Regions from separate parts of the Homo sapiens genome. Here region 1 is linked to region 2. Evidence: fine-mapped expression QTL. A gene starts in region 2. The other region holds a variant in brackets. All regions are shown on one strand. Distances are from middle to middle.

Region 1 (5,391 bases), 62 kb after region 2:
ATGCTGGGATCATCTTTGTTATCCATTCACCAAAGAAGGTGCCACAGTTTGATGGGTTAGGCTTGTTGTCACCTGTGGGAATGCACGCAAGGGTAACCATCCGCCAAGTGAAGGTAAATACTCGAGTCTGAGGAAATTAGGTGGGGTAGTGAATGCATCAAACACATAAGTAATGCTTTTCACTAGAAATTCCTTTCTCCCATGCCTGTAAAACACCATTAGAAATTCCAAAATTTCATTTCAGATTATTTTCCTTTATCTGAAGGTACATGATTAGTGGAAACAGAAACTATGTAAGTGAAAGCTGGGAAGCCTATCAAATCCAAACTTTACATTTCATTAGAAATGGAAAGGGTCATTAAGTATAAAGAGGTACCTAAGTTGCTGAGCTATGATTCTTCAATGAGACTATCTGGGAAGGAGAAAATTAGTGGGAAAAGCAGGAATCTTGGAGTCAGGCTGGTCTGGTAGGTTTCTGTTTGCCAGCCACTTACTTGCCCGGTAACTTCTTTAATTAGCTTCCTGAATTTGCATCTCCTCTCTGCACAAATAGGGAAGGGGTAATATTTTTCTTTCATAGTAAGGAAGTTTAAGTGAAGTACCATAAAGAAAGCACTTACCATTGATAGACACAGGAGACAGCCAAGGGCCCCTGGTGAAACCCTGCCTTCAAACCTAAAACAGCCTGAAGGCTGAAAAACTGGACTGCTTGTCCCAGATGAAGGCTGTCCTTTCCCACCTGATTCTTTCTGAAAAATGCCCACCTGCACATTGGGAGGAAGGGGTGGAGCCTTGGGAAGTTTGCACTGTTTGCAGTGGGGAGGAGCCTGGCCTCTCATGTTCCTGTGTGGTGGCCTGAGATTCAATCTGTGAGGTGGGAAACCTACCAGCAGGACTCTCTCTCACTTAGCTGAGAGTCATTTTTCTTTTTTTCTTTTCACCCAATAAATTCCATTTTCCTCACCCTTCTATTTGCCCGCGAGCCTCATTTTTCCTGGTCATGTGACAAGAGCCCAGTTTTAGCTGAACTAAGGAGAAAGTTCTGCAACACCATGTTGCCTGGCACATAATAGTTGCTTATTAAAGGATCTTTTTAAAATGTGATTTTCTTCACTGTTTTGTAGGTGAGCTGATTACTACACTAATATAACATTTACATAAATGATATTTTTTCCTTATATGAGTTGATTTTTAGAATACTCAATGTGTCTGACTTTATTAATTCACATTTGGGATATATGTTTAAGGATCACTATTATACTTAGCTTCAGGGAATTTCAGGTCAATAGAGTAGGCAAAATAGACAAATGTAACCAATTTTGGTTTTGAAAATCAAAGAGCTCTGAGAGGAAAATAAAAATGTGTACCAGCTTCTTGATGGAAAATAAGTGAATTGATGTAAACACATCTCCTGAACCCAGTATTTATCTTATCTTAAGACAGTTCATCAAGAATACCCTTGGGGAGAATGCAATCCTAACATCAAGCTGCAGAATTTTAGCAGCTACAGCACTTCTGGTTGCTTGAAGGAATGCAAAGCCCAGCACATAAAAAAGCAATGTGGATGTGTGCCTTTTCTTCTTCCTGGTAAATAAAGACTAACTGCCCCCTTACTTAACTAGACAGTTAAGTGTTTCTTAGAGGGTTACAAAAGGTCTGGGAGAAATAGAGTATTGAAATACAAATGGAATATTAAGTATTATTAAGTGTAATTACAGATGTTGCTGACCCATTCACAGAAAAATTATTATATTCTTAAGCCTGTTCCTTCTCTTTGCAGACTAAAATGACAACTAATAACAAAGTCACCAGAAGTTTAGTCCTAAATTTCTTTGAATTTTATGTTTATATTTACTTAATTTGAAACATAGCAAATCAACATATCACTAAATTGTTTTCCATTCTTCTGAAATTCTACACTGGAAAATTATCCATTTGCCAGGTACAACTTCGACTGACAAATTTTACATTATAAAATCATCGCAGAGATTTCTGGAAGAGAAAATTGCGATATCAGGGTGGGGCCCCAATACTTACTCCCAAAGGCTAAAATTTGATGGTCTCAAATATCTAAAACAGCACACCAAGATTTTCTTAATTTTGAAAGAAAAATTAGATCATGGATATGTCTTACCAAGCCTGAAGATTTCACTGTTGAAAAGTTATTTTCTTTGGGACTGTAAAATTAACTTCAGGCCTCCTTTTCATACAATTTGCAACTTTTCCAGAACCATGGGTGAGAGGCAAGCATTCAAGGAAGCAATGGAGCAGGGTGAATAAGAGCTGGATCTCAACCAGGCTGCTCATGTCGGCTCTACAATTTCTCCCCTAGGTGATCTTGAACAAGTGACCTAACCTCTCTCCTCTGCTGTCAAATGGAGGAGGGGATAATAATCCCATCTTATAGGGTTGTTGTAAGAATGAAAGGGGTATGTAAGTGGTTCAAATAGTG[C/T]CTGGCACAGAATATAGTCTATGTAAATGTCAGATATTTGTATTCAGGTCTCTTACATCCCCCTCCCACAGCATATCTAGAAAGATATATTGTAACACAATCTACCTGCCAAAATATTGTAACTGCCCAACGGGCTCACCATGCCTGCTGCCTAGACAGAGCTGATTTATCAAGACAAAGGAATTGCAATAGAGAAAAACTAATTCATGCAGAGCTGGCTGTGCGGGAGATTGGAGTTTTATTATGACTCAAATCAGTCTCCCTGAGTATTCGGAGATAAGAGTTTTTAAGGATAATTTGGTGGGTAGGGGACCAGTGAACCAGTGAATCAGGGGTTCTGATTGGTGAGATCAGAGATGAAATCATGTGGAGTTGAAGCTGTCTTTTTGCGCTGAGTCAATTCCTGGGTAGGGGTCACAAAACCAGATGGGCCAGATTTTTGTTCTGGGTGGTGCCAGCTGATCATTGGAGGCAGGGTCTGCAACATATCTCAAGCACTGATCTTAGCTTTTACAATAGTAATGTTATCACTATAAGCAATTTGGGGCGGTTTAGAATCTTGCACCCTCCAGCTGCATGACCCCTAAACATAATTTCTAATCTTGTGGCTAATTTGTTAGCCCTATATAGGCAATCTAGTCCCCAGGCAGGAAGGGAGTTTATTTTGGGAAAGGGCTGTTATTGTCTTTGTTTCAGAGCTAAACCATAAACTAAGTTCCTCCCAAAGTTAGTTCAGCGAACGCCCAAGAATGAACAAGGACAGCTTGGAGGTTAGAAACAAGATGGAGTCAGTTAGGTCAAATCTCTTTCAATGTAATAATAAAAGTAAAAAATATATAAAATATAAATATAAAATATGTATAAATATAAAATATATATAAAATATAAAAAATATATATTATATTATATATAATATAAAAAATAATAAAAGTAAAAAAGATATAAATTTTGCAAAAGTGGTTTCATTATTTTCCAGAGGTTTCCATAATCATCACATCCTTCTTTTTAGTATCCAGATTATTGATCTCTGGCCACTGCAAAAACTGCTGTTCTATATAAAACTGCTGGCTCTGGCTCTGATTTCTCATTCCTAATTTATTGGCAAAGTTGCTGGAAAGAAGTCTGAATTGTTTCATGCAGAATAATGTTGACAATTTTAAAAGTTATGATTATTAAACCAAAACCTACTGGCTAATGTGGACCAGAAACTAGGCAAGGTGCTATATAAAACACAAAGAATGATATCTGCATGAACTTTAGCATATATATCAAATGCATTCAGGAATATGATCTTATTTGGTTAGATTCTCACACATCCCTTTAAGTGTACTGATATATGAATAAACGGAAGATTCTAAACGTTAAACAAATTCGCTGAGGTAATTCCACTAACAATTTGAGGAAGCAATCTCCAAAACAGCTTTTCAGATATTGGTTATTTCCAAAATTTCATTGTTCTTTTGTTTGTTTGTTTTTATTTTTGTTTTCTGTGTTCCATCTACCATCTTTTTTTTCTGAATTGCTCTTTATAATGGAAGAAATATTATTGCCAGAGCAAGAAATAATTCAGAAAAATGAGGTTTTTTCCTAACTCAGTGTTGGAGGTAGTTTTTTTTTTTTACTTATTGTATTTTATTCATAAAGAGCACTTCCTTACAGTTAGCCAAACATTCCACAAATTGTCCGCACGTTGTAAGTGGACAATCTCCTTTGGTTATTTTCAAGATTACTGACTAAACATTGTGGCTAACTGCTGAGTCACATGGGCTATAGCAATAGACAAATATTGTATTAAGGCTAAAAGACTAAGTCTTTAGAATCAGCCGTAGGAGTAAACCCAGCTCTGATACATAGTGATTTTCTACTTATCTCACAATCTATAGTGGGTACTTAACAAATATTGGTACTTACCTGCCCCCTCCCCATCCTACTTCTGGAATGGCAGTCTGTCAGGAACGTGTGTGTGTGTGTGTGTGTGTGTGTGTGTGTGTGTAAATGGATAGAGGGAGCAGGATGGAAGATGTACAGAATGTGCCAAGTTTCCCCTAACTGTGTGGTCTTGAGCAAGCCACTCTTTCTGAGGCTTAGTTTCTTTATCTGTAAAATGAAAATTCTCATATGACAGGATTGTGAACCATATCAAATGAGATGATAACTGTGAAAGTAATTTTAAATTTGAAAACTACTCACATTTGAAAATTATTATTCCCGCTTAAAGATTTTAGAGTGATATAGACAGATGGAAAGAGGTATGGAAAGAAACAAAAGCATTATTCTTCCTCCCAACACATATTTTCACTGGATACTAACTTGATTCCATAGTTTTGCTTATGAAAGAATAGATGTTCATATAGAAGAATGGGTGGGTGGATGAATGGATGGATAGATGTAGGTAAGAAAGGTATTTTTGTCATTAGATCACTTATTTTACAAAATGTAAAGTCTCTATATGTTACACTTATTATTTTTAAGGATATGGGATAGAATGTGACCTACAAAAGTACTTCAGCTGTGTTTCTCCTGTACTTGGTAAGTGCTTAATTTACTTTTATTTTCAGGATTTATATTAAAGTTGCTCAAAGTAATATAAGACATTAAGTCAAACTATGGATAGCCCAGAAATTAAACAGAATATAGTATATAAGAGAAGATCTTTTTGTAAGTGTTCTTAAATAGTAGCTAACAAACACAGGCAGTATACACAAACAAAAACCCTCTGATATTAAGACACATCTAAATTTTTAAATTTTGTTCTTTTTTATAATCAAAATATCCTAGCTGCTTTTTATTGTTTCACAAATAAAACAAGTTTATTGTGAATAGTTAAAATACTACAGAATAGAAAGGAAATCATGTAAAAATAAATAGAAGTTTTATTACTGAGAACTCCTCTCACTGATTGGGAATAGTCCTTCATTCATTCACTTTATTGCATGCAC
Region 2 (5,367 bases):
ACACATAGGCTAAAAAAAAACCCACTGCCCAGAAATCATTATAGAAATCTGGAAAGGATAAACATACATTTTTGGACACAATTTACATTTGTCTTTATTACTAGATTTGTATAGGATTATGTCAATCCAGCATAAATTTCAATGATCTTGAAAATAGTTTTTTAGTGTTCCGAAGTGAGAAACGTAACATCTTCACTTGTGAATTCCTAGTGAAATTCCAAGAGGCAGAAAGTCCCCTTGGAGTTAAGAACAAAGCTAAAGTCCTACTTCACCTATTAGCAGAGGAGTAACATAAAGAAGACTATTGAAATCCTTATATCAGTCCTATGAGAATTCATCTGGCAGCAAAATATTCTCAAACATTTCTAACAGAGGTGATTCCATGATCTTTCATCATTTTGTAGTTTAAAAATTGTAGCTTTCCTCGTTATCAATGAGAAATGCCTGTGGAATATTGTCCAAAACCTTTGTGCAACTTACCTTGATGAGTTATGATAAAAAGATGTTCATCATGGATTTTATTTCCTTTTGTTTCACTTTGCAGTTCTTGTGCATTCAAAACTTTTTCCAACTTGAAATGAAAAATAAAAAGCCTGTCTGAAATTGCAGAACTTGGTTTTTATGAACTTTAGTAAGAAGTAGAATATGATAATGACAAATGCTCCTCCAAACTCAAAATTCTCAGAAACCAATCTAGTTTCTTTTAAACAATGGACGAATCTCATCATAAAGAGTGAATTGAATTTGTGATTTTTATTCTTCTCAGAAAATTTCTATTTGGTAGGATTTTATCATAATAAATCCTATTAAGCTCTTTGAGACATCATATCCCTTTTCATGAAATGAATATGATGAAAACTTGAAAACTTGCTGAGCTGACTATGCATTTGGCATTCTTTTATTCCCCTAAAGAGCCTATTCTAAGAATATTTTAACATTCTTTATCAGTTAATCCTTAGAAACTCACCGATGAAGACATCAAGGACTAATCATTTTGCCTCTTAAAAAAAATAGAAGACAAACAGGCTGAAACTTGGCCCAGAATAATCTCCCAATACCTCATTCATTAACATCCCTCTTTATATGTTAATGATTTTAAGAAAATTCTCTGTGTGCCTTTTACATTTCGACTTCATGATAAGAGATTTAAAGGAGAACTTTTTCAAGATACATTTGCAGTTATCTAGGCTGACATTTATTAACCATGTCTTATCTATACAAGTTGCACAATGCCTGTGAATTATCCACAGTGTATCTTATCATGTATACGCCTCCCAGATTCTGGATTCTCTGCTCTTACTTCCACTGGAGATATGAATTTTATCCTATAAGTCTCTTGAATTATTCTAACAAAAGTTGAAAACGTAAAAGTGTTTATGAATAAAAATATCCTTAGGTCCAGAAAACGATTGGTGACTTTCCCTAATTCCAAGAAATAAAATCATAAAAAGTCACTTGGCAGAATTGAGTGCCTAACAATGGACACCAAACCCTGTAAGGACCCTGCCACTTACATGCAGGTAGTTCCCATAGATAAGACCTCCTTTGCTGGCTCTATTCACACCAGTTTGTGATTTGTCTTCTTCGCTGCCTTCTACGGGGAGTTTTTTAAAAGTATATCTGCAAATTTAATAAATCAAGAGGGAAAAATAGTGCTTTAGAAAACACAGTTAACTAATGATATGGGTGATTAAAATTCTCATTGCAAATTTTCTTTAGAGTAGATTGTTAGACAAAGGAATAAAGGTGACAGTTTTCAATGCTCCTTAAATTCAGAAATTAAAATGCTCACACCTGATACTTCTAAAAGCCAAAACCCACTTAGAATAAAGGTAAATACTCACCCAAAGTTGTTTCCTAAAAATGGGCACCCACTCATGGTGAAAAGGCACTGTCTGAGAAGCACGGAGGTTTGACTCTAGGCAGATGCTATCATTGACCTTCCCAGATGTTCTACAGCTGCCTTTTATGTAGCCTGCTTACCCTGCATCAGCCAATCAGCATGCTTCTTGTACTCTTAGCTAACTTCTCATTTCCATTGGTACAGAACTGAACCTCTGTAAACTTTAGAGTGGATTTATGTTGGGCACAGTTCATTTGCTAAGAGTGAGTGATCTGCCAAATTGAGTTGTATGACTTGCCAAGTTCTGCTTTTATATTCAAAGTAACAAACATCCAATGAATCAACAGAGGCCAAGTTAAAAAAATTACATTTATTCAATCCCAAGAAAACATTTGGCATAGTATTAGGATACATAAGATGATGAGCTTGTAAAAAACAAATATGTATTCTCTCAAATTTGAATATTCTTACAGCTTCTAGACCAAAAACTGAAATTTAACACCTCTAGGGAAATTAACTGTATAATAAAGTCTGGGTACATGCTCAAAGCCCACTTCCATTCAATCATCAGAGTTCTTCTGACCTAAATATCATGTAATAATCAGCAGCAGTTAAGCTCTCAACACATTGTATTGGAATTTAAATGAACATTATCAGTTTACTATTCATCTGTGGCATACCAATGACAGGGTAGCTAGCAGTCATCCACATTAGCATACATTGCCTATATAGAATTTTAAAACAGTAGTTCAAGACCAGCCTGGCCAACGTAGCGAAACTCTATCTCTACTAAAACTACAAAAAAATTAGCCAGGCAAGGTGGTGCGTGCCTGTAGTCCCAGCTACTAGGGAGGCTGAGGCAGGAGACTCGCTTGAACCCAGGAGGTGGAGGTTGCAGTGAGCCAAGATTGTGCCATGGCACTCCAGCTTGGGCAACAGAGTGAGACTTTGTCTCAAAACAAAAACAAAACAACAACAACAACAACAACAAGAACCAATAATAGCCATGTGCCCATAATTCTATACAGTGTCAGTGATAAAAATATTCTTCCTTGAAACATCATTTATTAATCTAAGCTCTAAACAATTGCCCCAAGAACAATTAAGCCAGGATAGAAGCTTCATGGCCTTATCCTTAGCATGCCACTGCTACTCACTAAGAACTATAGGCAGAAACAGCACTTAGCCTTTATTTAATCATCTACCATGATGGAATTTTGTCTAATTAGCCAAAGTCATTGGAAGTCAGAAACCTGATTTCTAGTCTTGGCTCTACGACTACCTTGTAATATGAGAAAAACTGACTGAATTTCTGTACATATCAATTTCCTCACCAAAATAGAAAGTGTTTAAGCTGATTATAATCTTCAAGATCCTGACCCAGGTTAAAATCTTGATTTTATTACTGAATAATAAATTATATATCTAGTACAGAAAGATAAACAACATGCAAATGCCATGTTATAATTGAACTTGAAAATCATCAAAACTATATGCTATACCTGTCACATTTCCCTTGAGTTTTTATGAATGATCCTGGAAATTGCCTACACACTGGATAGGGACCTTACCTGAGAGAGCGGTGGAGTCACTGTTGCTTTTCCTGGTGTCCTGGCTTAGAGTGTTTGGAAGCAGAGAACAGTTAACAGCCCCTCTTTCTCTACATAGTTGTTCAACTGGGTACGTGTTTACAGAGAATAATGCTAAATAATTTATTCCACTCTCTTTAAGCCTTTTGAGCTGAGAAGTTTCCTTCACTTATTGGTCAACATACTAGTAAAACAAATAAGGAAACAAATTTTCCTATGAATTGGAAAAAATAGATATTTTAGAAACAAAAAATTTTTTAAAGAAATGACATTTCACTCTTAAGTAGTAGTATCAATTCAATATTTGCTTTTACATCACAAGAACTGATCATTGAAAGACTTGACTTTGGGGCATCAGAGAAACTGCAAGCTAATCTAAAAATAACTTATTTTCTTCATCCAGGAGAGTAACTACAGTGGAAGGCCCCCATACACACACATCCTCATTATTTTTTGCAATAGCATTATCAAATGTATTACTAGTTATATTCTGGTCATCATTTGCCAATACTTAAATTTTGCCACTTCGAACCCAATTTGTCCATCTGATGATAATCTAATTAGGAAACTTTTATTTATAATCACATTTAGAATTTATTTCTTATTTTTATTTTTATTTTTATTTTTATTTTTAGAGATGGGGTTTCACTATGTTGACCAGGCTGGTCTTGAACTTCTGGCCTCAAGCAATCCACCCATCCCAGCCTCCCAAAATGCTGGAATTACAGGCATGAGCCACTGCTCCTAGGCTCAGATTTAGAATTTCTATGACTATAGTATCTACAGCTCCCTATTTATTTATATATTGAATATTTTACACAGACTTTCTGGAAATATACTTTAACTCAAATAATACAATGTAATAGAACCTCAGACATTTAACAGATCAAGAGAGGAGATTCTACGGGTACAGGCAATGATCTGCAGTAACCTTCTAAACCCACTCTATTTCCATATGCACATAATTCTGTGCACACATGGCTTAGAGAAGGAAGATGCTGGAGGCAACACTGGTAGATGAGCATGTTTAAGAAGATGCAAATCGTAACTAATTCTGGGCCTAAAAGTTACCCTAGAAACCATCTAATCTATATTCAGAAGTAAAAATACTAGAAAGCTAAGAGATATAGCAACTTTCTTTTTCAGACATGTAGTAAAAGAATATGAAAATCAGATATAAAGCATTATAACAAAAATCTTTGTCTCTAGGTCTTTCCTCTTGATTTCTAAGGTTAGGGTGCAGAAAAGAGTGAGCCTGCGAGGGTAGAGCAATGAGAATTAGCAGGAACTTGCATTGAGCTAAACTCTGAACGTGAATAGGAGTTTATAAAGATCATCCCTTCAGCCATCACAATATTTCTTTCTACAAAGCACCACATGTGCTCTTCCATAAGATGTTAACTTTTCTTTTTCCATCTACCCTTCACAGCTTAAAACTGCTGCAACATCTTCCTGTCTGCCAATGCAATTTCCCACTCTTTTCCTTACTCAACAGTGGTAGATTGTGGCAGACACAGAAATGCTGACTCAGTAGGGGAATTCTGAAAGGATTCTGCACCCTTCTTCAAATAGCCCAGAGCAACCCACAGTTGCTCCTGACATTGACCTCAATAATTTATTTATGGCTCTTTTCCTGTCTCAACTTCCTTAGTCCCTCACTACTTTCTGGGAACATCTCCCAGATAAATCCCCATCCCCCAAATCCTTATCTCGGGCTCAGACTTTCTTATGCAGAAGCCAATCTAATACATACAGCTCTTGTTCATCAGGAGCTATAATATATTTAGGAATTGAATAATTACTTTTTTTAACAGATTTTTTCCTTTCTAAGCCAAGAAGCATCTGTAAACATAGCAGCCATTCAATAAACTTTAGTTGACAAGATAAATTGCCATTTGGGCTGTGAAGTAGCTTTTTTCTTGTCCTTGTTTTGTT

Which allele goes with the higher level. Positions count from the first base shown, and alleles are read on the strand shown. Sizes are in standard deviations (SD) of each study's normalised expression.
With allele T in place of C in region 1, the expression in sigmoid colon of the gene that starts at base 1,942 in region 2 is lower (small effect, 0.28 SD a copy in GTEx).

What was found. PIP is the estimated chance that this variant, and not a neighbour inherited with it, causes the effect.
Region 1: its variant is the best candidate, but not a certain one, in a credible set for the expression of TDO2 in sigmoid colon (GTEx, PIP 0.52).

Annotation. Positions count from the first base shown.
Region 1 is chr4:155,838,403-155,843,793 of GRCh38, reverse strand. It overlaps ASIC5 (acid sensing ion channel subunit family member 5), which reads left to right. Exons shown (of 10, transcript NM_017419.3): 5 at 1-113; 6 at 1,440-1,587; 7 at 4,925-4,981. Among named protein-coding and RNA genes, the nearest start is that of ASIC5, 25 kb to the left of the region's middle. The variant C/T (reference allele first, on the strand shown) is at 2,453.
Region 2 is chr4:155,900,271-155,905,637 of GRCh38, reverse strand. It overlaps TDO2 (tryptophan 2,3-dioxygenase), which reads right to left and starts at 1,942. Exons shown (of 12, transcript NM_005651.4): 1 at 1,845-1,942; 2 at 1,515-1,620; 3 at 481-571. The coding sequence starts at 1,879.